Linked DNA regions of Homo sapiens: region 2 is reported to be linked to region 1. The links are microRNA targets in miRTarBase. Many come from high-throughput screens and were not tested one by one. Region 1 holds a microRNA gene; the other region holds the end of a gene's coding sequence.
What was found. The annotated mature microRNA hsa-miR-3618 reads UGUCUACAUUAAUGAAAAGAGC and lies in region 1 at 1,392-1,413, shown strand. An mRNA with a match to its seed (bases 2 to 7 or 8) in the 3' UTR can be bound and repressed. Matches are read on the target gene's strand: a 7mer-m8 pairs with bases 2 to 8, a 7mer-A1 pairs with bases 2 to 7 and ends in A, and an 8mer does both.

Region 2: the mRNA of FREM1 is a reported target of hsa-miR-3618. The part of its 3' UTR that is shown has no 7-base or 8-base seed match.

What each region holds. Positions count from the first base shown.
Region 1 is chr22:20,084,406-20,088,405 of GRCh38, forward strand. MIR3618 (microRNA 3618) reads left to right here and starts at 1,341; the gene lies at 1,341-1,428. It overlaps DGCR8 (DGCR8 microprocessor complex subunit), which reads left to right. Exons shown (of 14, transcript NM_022720.7): 2 at 1,282-2,278; 3 at 2,757-2,916. The coding sequence starts at 1,559. MIR1306 (microRNA 1306) reads left to right here and starts at 1,653; the gene lies at 1,653-1,737.
Region 2 is chr9:14,733,694-14,737,861 of GRCh38, forward strand. It overlaps FREM1 (FRAS1 related extracellular matrix 1), which reads right to left. Exons shown (of 37, transcript NM_001379081.2): 37 at 3,459-3,902. The coding sequence ends at 3,703. Among named protein-coding and RNA genes, the nearest start is that of CER1, 13 kb to the left of the region's middle.

The DNA.
Region 1 (4,000 bases):
ATGCAGGGTTTTCTGGCTGCCCCCTCAGACCCATCTTCCCTGCTTCATGTTGTCCCTTTCTTCATGCTTCCTCTGTAGTAAGGCTTCCTAGAGTTGCATCCTTAACCCTCATCTCTGGGTGGCCTTCCTCCTGTGGGTTTGGCGACTACCTCCTCAGTGCGTCCTGGCCTTCCGTATCTGGACCAGTCATGGCTCCAGAGTTGTGGCCTCGGCACCTTCAGAGCCTGCCTGGAGGTCCCCTCTGTTCTCCTCGCCAGGCTCCTGCCTGCATGCTGGAATTTGGGTGTCCTTCCTTGTCTTTAGTTCCCTCTTTTCTCTGCTATCCACCTCCGTTGGGTCAACAAGTGCGGTCAGTTCTGTGACACTGTTCTTGGCCCATTGCCAGGGCCTCTTTCACACCTTTGTCCTCTGGCCTGGAGGACTGTCCCCGTGCCTTGGATGCAGTTGCTTCTGCCTGGCACAGCTGTGGGTCTCCCCTCTCAAGTAGGAACCTACTTGTGGCATGAGAGTCGCTTCACCTTCAGTGGCTCCTTATTGTCCCCAGGGCGGAACGGGCTGCAGGTGGCACCCAGGCCTCTCTGTGCCTCGGCTCCAGCTGTCTCTTGTGGCTCCCCACCCCAAATCCTGGCAGGTCCCTTCCCCACAGCCACCCACCCCTCTCCTCCATCGGGAACAGAACTATGCTGCCACCTCTGGTGACCTCAGCACGCTGCATCACTGTCCCCGTCCACGTGCTACCCTGTGGGCCCAGGAGAGCCCTGGGGTCCCTGGGTAGCAGAGCGCCTGGCCATGCCTCTGAGGCCCCTAGTGCCGCAGAGTTGAGCTGAGGGTCTCGCGCTCGCCCTCTGACTGACCCAGCCCTTGCAGGTGAGTGGATTGCTGTGCTCTGGTGGCCTGAGGGAGGCCACGCGCCTTCTGTGTGTTCCAGAAAGGGTGCCTCCCACTGCATGCTTGCTTATCTGAGTTAGAAGAATGCTGTGGTGGAGTTTAGTGTAAATTTTTAAAATATTTTTTGAGCCTTATGATTATATAGTTTTTGTGTTTCTGAAGTAGGAATTAAAGTGGGCATTAACAAAATATTTAACTTTGGACTTAAGTTATAATTCAGGTTCTGAAGAATAAAAGTAAGGTTAGTTTGTTTTGATGCCTAAAAAGTCCTCTTAGGGAATATTATTTTGAAGCCCTTTACTATGCTGTTAATAGTGCTTGGCTTTTAACTTGGTACCAGGGAATTGGAAGGTTTCTGTCATTTTGTGACGATATTTTTAAATTTCTTTGCAGGTAGAAGAAGAAAGGTGCCACTCCGGCATGAAGACAGACTCGCTTAGTCGCCAGTCACTTAAGCTGAGTGCATTGTGATTTCCAATAATTGAGGCAGTGGTTCTAAAAGCTGTCTACATTAATGAAAAGAGCAATGTGGCCAGCTTGACTAAGCCGCCAGCGCACAGCGCGGCAGGACGCGCCCGGGTCTCAGCGGACTTGTGCATGTTAGCTGTGTAGATTTATGTGAGGGCTTGTAAAACTCTGGTCTTGTAAACTAGTCTTAAGCGCTTTTAATATGGAGACAGATGAGAGCCCCTCTCCGCTCCCGTGTGGGCCCGCAGGAGAAGCGGTGATGGAGAGCCGAGCTCGCCCCTTCCAAGCGCTGCCCCGTGAGCAGTCTCCACCACCTCCCCTGCAAACGTCCAGTGGTGCAGAGGTAATGGACGTTGGCTCTGGTGGTGATGGACAGTCCGAACTCCCTGCTGAGGACCCCTTCAACTTCTACGGAGCTTCTCTTCTCTCCAAAGGATCCTTCTCTAAGGGCCGCCTCCTCATAGACCCGAACTGTAGTGGCCACAGCCCGCGCACCGCCCGGCACGCACCTGCGGTCCGGAAGTTCTCCCCTGACCTTAAGTTGCTTAAGGATGTAAAGATTAGCGTGAGCTTTACCGAGAGCTGCAGGAGTAAGGACAGGAAGGTGCTGTACACAGGAGCAGAGCGCGACGTGCGGGCGGAGTGCGGTCTGCTCCTTAGCCCTGTCAGTGGGGACGTGCATGCTTGTCCCTTTGGCGGGAGTGTTGGTGACGGGGTAGGCATAGGGGGTGAGAGTGCTGATAAGAAGGATGAGGAGAATGAGCTGGATCAGGAAAAGAGAGTGGAGTATGCAGTGCTCGATGAGTTAGAAGATTTTACTGACAATTTGGAGCTAGATGAAGAAGGAGCAGGCGGGTTCACGGCTAAAGCAATCGTTCAGAGAGACAGAGTGGATGAAGAGGCCTTGAATTTCCCCTACGAGGTATGTTGGCAGCCCCTCCTCTAGAGGGCTCTTAGCAAAACCCAAAGAGAGATTTGGGAATTGCAGCATCTTTTGAAAGCAGGGAAATTAAAAAAAAAAAAAACAAAAACCAAAATCCCCTCTGAGGTGGAATAATGTTAATGTGGAGAAGAGAAAGATGTAAGGAGTCCAGATTTTTAAAGTTTCCTAATGAAAAGTTTGGCCCATGGGTAGGCCCTGCATCCCTGATCTAGCGCGTGGGGCAGCAGGTGCTGCTGAGTTACGCTCCTTGGCAGTGTGTGCCCCTGGACCAGGTGTGTTGGTGTCAGCTGGTAGCTTCATCCTGTTTGTTTTTCAGATGATCATGCACCCTAAGGGCACATCTAGGCCCCCTGAGAGCACCTCCTTTCTGTGTCTGTTCTCAGGAATGCTGTTGAGCTCTCCTGTTGCAGGAGCATGAGCGCCAGGGGCTCTGGTGTCTGAACAGCGTGTTTTGCAGGATGACTTTGACAACGATGTGGATGCTCTGCTGGAAGAAGGCCTTTGTGCCCCCAAAAAGAGGCGAACAGAGGAAAAATATGGCGGAGACAGCGACCATCCGTCCGATGGAGAGACAAGTGTGCAGCCGATGATGACCAAGATTAAAACAGTGCTCAAAAGTACGTGTGTGGGTCAGAAGCAGTGGGTGTTCCAGGGCAGTGGAGGGGTGGTTGCTTCCTTAGCAGAAATGCTTTGAGAGAGCTCTGGTGCCAGGTAGTGGGCTGGGTGGAGGCATGTTTGAGGACAGGACAGAAATATCTGAGGAGGGAAACACAGGATGGGAGGACGTCCTGATGCATGACCCAGATGCGGATCCTGGTGTGTGCTATGGAAACCACAGAGCAGCAGGCACTGTGCAGAGGAATGGGAGGGGACTTCTGAGGGGGTCAGGAGGGGATGTTGGTATATGCCAGGAGCCAGCATGACCATCAGCTGGAGGGTGTGGAGACCAAGGGCAAGGTGGGTACACAGTGAGATGGCAGGTGATAGTTGTGATCCAGGTTCTAGTCCTGGACCAAGTGTCACAGGAAGCCACCAGAAGCAAGTGGTGTTACCTGATTTTTGTTTAACAACATGGCTTCTGGGCCACAGCATGGTGTGTGCACTTCAGCTGGGCAGGGTGGAAGTGCCCTGGTCGACGTGGCACTTCCTCAACTTTGAGTTGAGGGTAGTGGGGAGAGCACTTGAGAGGCGCCCAGAGTTGCACTGTGAGGCTCTGTCATCGATGTGGTGCAGGTGTTGGGGGAGTCGGAGTTGGTGGCTTGGAGGCACCTATGAGGGTCCTGGTGGAGATGTGGGGCTCGGTAGAGGGACTGAAGAGATGCACGGGGACTCAGGCTCACAGGTGAGACCCCAGGCTGAGGGCTGGGGTGCACAAGGTGGCAGGGTGCGACTGGGAGCAAAGCAAGGGGCGGGTGGCACATGGCCATCCTCCTTGGGCCATTGAGGGGACAAGTTAGCTATGCCAGGTGCCACATGTTGCTGCCTATGTCGTGTTGGTAGCAGTTAAGCAGGAGGGCTTTTGGTCTAGACGGTTGCAGGCAGGGTAAACCTGGGGCTTCAGCTTCTGGGGCTGGGGGCAGGAGTCTTGACCTCGGGGCCTCTAGGAGGCTGGTTTGGTGCTGCATTTTCAACAGGCTCATTCAGAAGGTAAACCCACATTCGTCCTGCACAGCTCACTGGTCAGCAGCCATTCTGGCCTGG
Region 2 (4,168 bases), not on the chromosome of region 1:
CTAATCTATTTTCTGTCTTTATAGATTTGTCTATTCTGAACATTTCATATGAATGGAATCACAAAATATGTGACCCTTTGTGTCTGCCTTTTGCTTATGATAGTGTTTTCAAGTATACGGTGAATTTTATTATACTCATCATTCAAAGATGAGTATATTTTACTTGAATATAATAAAACTATCTGCTCAGAATGCTAATAGATATGTGGAATAATTAGAAAAGATTCAGCCTAAAATGTGGAAGACCTCAGTTCTAGTGCTGATTTCTTCACACAGTAACTTTCTCTGTTGTAACATAAGAGTATTAAATAAGATGATATCAAAGGTATCTCTCTTTAATTTCTGTTATTCTAGGAATCCCTAAAATACAGAGACATGTACTCATCATTTTGGAAAAAGTAGTTGTTACAAAATCAATTAACTAGATATAAAAACTTTAGTTCCTAACTTGATTCTGGAGACAGAAAATTTGAGACGGCTGCTATCAATAACACTTTGACCTGATTAAAAGTTAGGAAGTTAATATCAGTTTCTTAATCAAGAAAGAAATATAACAAAATTCAGCCTGAGCTGTTTGTATCTGTGTGTTTCCCTTCAATTAGGAAAAGGGATAATGTAATCACTGATTTCCACTGTGACTTCCTTCCTGATAAAAAGCTTGAGGTGTAAAAAGCTATTATAAATTTGCATATATATGCTATGCTTTTATACTTCTGTTTTTATCTTATTCCCTACAATAGCTCCAGTATCTGGAACAATGTCAGTTGCATGGTTGGCATGCCATGTTCAATATTTGTCAAATGAATGGTGGTTGGATGTATGGACACATGGAAGCGATACAACGAAAGGCTGGTCTGACCAATAAAGATAAAAAACATGTTGACTTTTCTCCTCCATCCCTTGCTAAATAGAATCACTAAAATCCAAAACCCATGTGCCCCCAGGAATAAGATAAAACGTTAAAAGCTAAAGGAAAGTGTCTCAGAACTTAAAACAAGTTTATTAATTTTGCTACAACACTAGATGTAGTACATTTAATATGCTGCTTTGTTGCAGAAATTAATCAGCACCAGTTTATGGTTTAAATTATACAGTACCATAATGTAAATTAAAATATGTGCATATCTTTTTGGTTGTATTAAAAATAAACAAAAACAGAAGTTAAATTAATGTCACCTGGTTCATTTTCACCACTTCTTGGAAGGAGATGAAATGATTATCATATGTTGCTTAAGTTTATTGTTAGCAAATAGATGCTATGTTTTTGTTAAAGACCAAACAATCAGAAGATTCTGAAAAGCTAGACACTATTGAGCTGGACTGACGCCCCTGGACACAGTGGGCCTTTTCCTGAGGTGGTATTGAAGTTTGGGGAGAAAAGCTGGGTACATTCAGGTCCTTCTTGACGCTTTCCTTCCTAGCTACCATCAGTTCCCATCCTCTTCTGTTCAACCCATCTCATCTCTCTCTCCCGTAATCTCTCATTCCCATTCTACCCATTACTCCAATTCCTTCCTTCCCACTCCCATCAGAAACTATCAATCAAGGCAGAGGGAACCTTGACAATCATTTACTTCTTTTCCCCCTGAGTCAAAGCTCAATTGTAAGAATAAAATGAAGGTTGTGATGAATACCGCCCATCACCCAAACTTGCCTGAATTTCTATTTTTATCTTCTTAAAATGACTTGGATTTTCTAATTTGATTAATGCTTTCATGATCAGGAATATTTTTAAATATTCTTGTAGCATTTCTAATTGTTATAAAAATCAAAACACTCTTTATGCTAACATTTGCAATTAGTTCAGTATCATTTATCATTTATATTGCAGAAATGTATAATAAATCTGCCATGCTGACAAGGTTCTACACAGTTGACATAGTTCTAGATTTCCAGTTTTAGATGGTTTATATAGTTTTAGAGTTCCAGTGGAAGGAGTGGCCCTTGAATCCCTCATTTCCCAAACTTCTACTTCCTTCCTAGGACTTAACCCTTTAGGTAAACAACTATTTTTTCTTTAGCCCAAATCTCACATTTCCATACTGCAAGAAGCCTGTGGACCAGAAGGAATTTGAAAGGAGCTGGTAAGAGGATAGGTGTGGCATCTTTTGGTTAAATGCCAGAAACTGCTTGTGTCTCACAGAGAACCTGTACATTATGCCAATCTGGAGCCCACCTGCGACATCTCAGGTAAGGACCCTCTGACACTATAATTATGTTTAGATTTAAGTAATAGACAGAATGTCTGGATCATATTCCAATATCTCTTTCTAAATGTTTCTATTAATTACAACCTTGATAAATGAACTGAAATAAAAAAAGCTTGCCATGTTTTTATATCCCAGAAACTGAACTGACTTTCTTCAAGCAGTTTTAGTGTCTACAACACTCAAGGTATTTTTATAATAAAACCAGCACCAGAGCTCTAGCCTACTTGATAACCCCAATTTGATTCTGAAGTTACATTGGTGCTCATAGAGCAAGTGACATTTGGCACAACCATATTTCTCAGTGATTATGAAAAGAGAAAAACTTTAAATAAATGTTTCAGACATTCTAATTTCCTATAACTGTTAAACCTTGATTTCAGAAGGGAGTTCTGGTAACGCTGCAACATACTTCATTGTTACAAAAATGTTCCACTCACCTGAGATTATAAATTAATAAGGTACCTTTCCGTTAGAGAATCTAGTTAACATGGCATTTCTGCAAATATTAAAGATTTAAGGTGGCTCAAAATTCCTCAAAATCCTTTCCGAGAATGTAGGCTTTCAGGGGCTCTGTTTTCGGTATTATTTTTCTCTGTTCATCAGCACAGTTCATCAGGACATTTCTGAGGAAGCAGTATTTTTCTTCCATGTGTCAACCATCATTCATATATACTCCTTATCCCAAGTGTCCCTGAGAAATGCTTGTCAGTACAATAAACACAGAGGAACAGATTATGTTACTTGAAATTTCTCATGACTCTGTAAGGCTGGGGAAACCCAATCATTAGCTTTGGGATGGTACAATGCCAACACTCAAATTGGAAAGGGAGATCTGTTTCATGAATAGTGATGAGTAGAACTCTGAGTACAGCCAGCCCCCCGAATTCTTACCTGAACTACAGCTTTGTAGATGAGCCTCCACCTACAAGATTCTTTCATCTAAAGTCTTTCTTTTTCATCATAGAAAATTCTCTTTTTCAACCCCAGCCTCTAATCTTAGATTTCACATTTAAAGGGCTCCAAAGGGACAACTTTGCGGTTCAACTTTGGTTTAATGAACTAGTAGAGTTAGCTTCACTCAGACTAAAGTGGTAGGAGCACCTACGATACATATTTCAGAATAAATTCATTAGAGGTAACGGGACCAAAAATTTTTTTTAAAAAAATCCAAGGACTATGAGACTGGTGCTCCCTGAGATTTGGAATGGGGTAAGGGTGAGGGTCTTCTGGAATAAACAAACCTTACACTTTATAATACTGCTGGCATTTATTTTAAAAGGTATTGAGATACAAAAATTGTATCTTATCTTGTAAAAAATATTTATTTATCAATCTTTCTGGCACTATTAAAAATGTCCCATTTTCACTAGACAGAATCACAAAGGTATACCCACTCAATCATAACAATTTGTTTTCTATGGAGCAATATTCACAGATCCTGTGAATAAATAGGTGACAAACTCCAGGTGGCCCCCTGTAGGGTCTGTTATATTTAGAGTTTTCTGGAACACACATAATTATGAGGTTTGGCTCTCCTACAGTCTTTTGTTTGCCATTTCCCTTGTCTTTGAACCAAAACACAGCTCTTTCCAAGCTTGGAGCGTTGAGAGGGCCCTCTTCTCCCATTGGTGAAGGCAACAGGTTCACCACCGATCCACTCCCAGTGGCCAGCATGCACTTGGTCGTTCAAACCTAATGTGAACCAAAAGAATGTACCAATTACTTTTATTGCGTTTATACTTAGATATCATATCCAGCTGTTGCTCTAAGCTCAGTTATCACATGCAAGTGTGGGCCCAGGTTCTAAAACAAGGGATAGGAACTTGGAATACTCTAAGACACAAACGGTCAAACAAATCCCAGTCCAATTCTAGCTCTACCACTTACTTGCTAGATGAGCATCTTTGGGCAGGTTACTTAACCTCTCTGAGTTTCAGTTTCCTCATCTAAGGAATGGG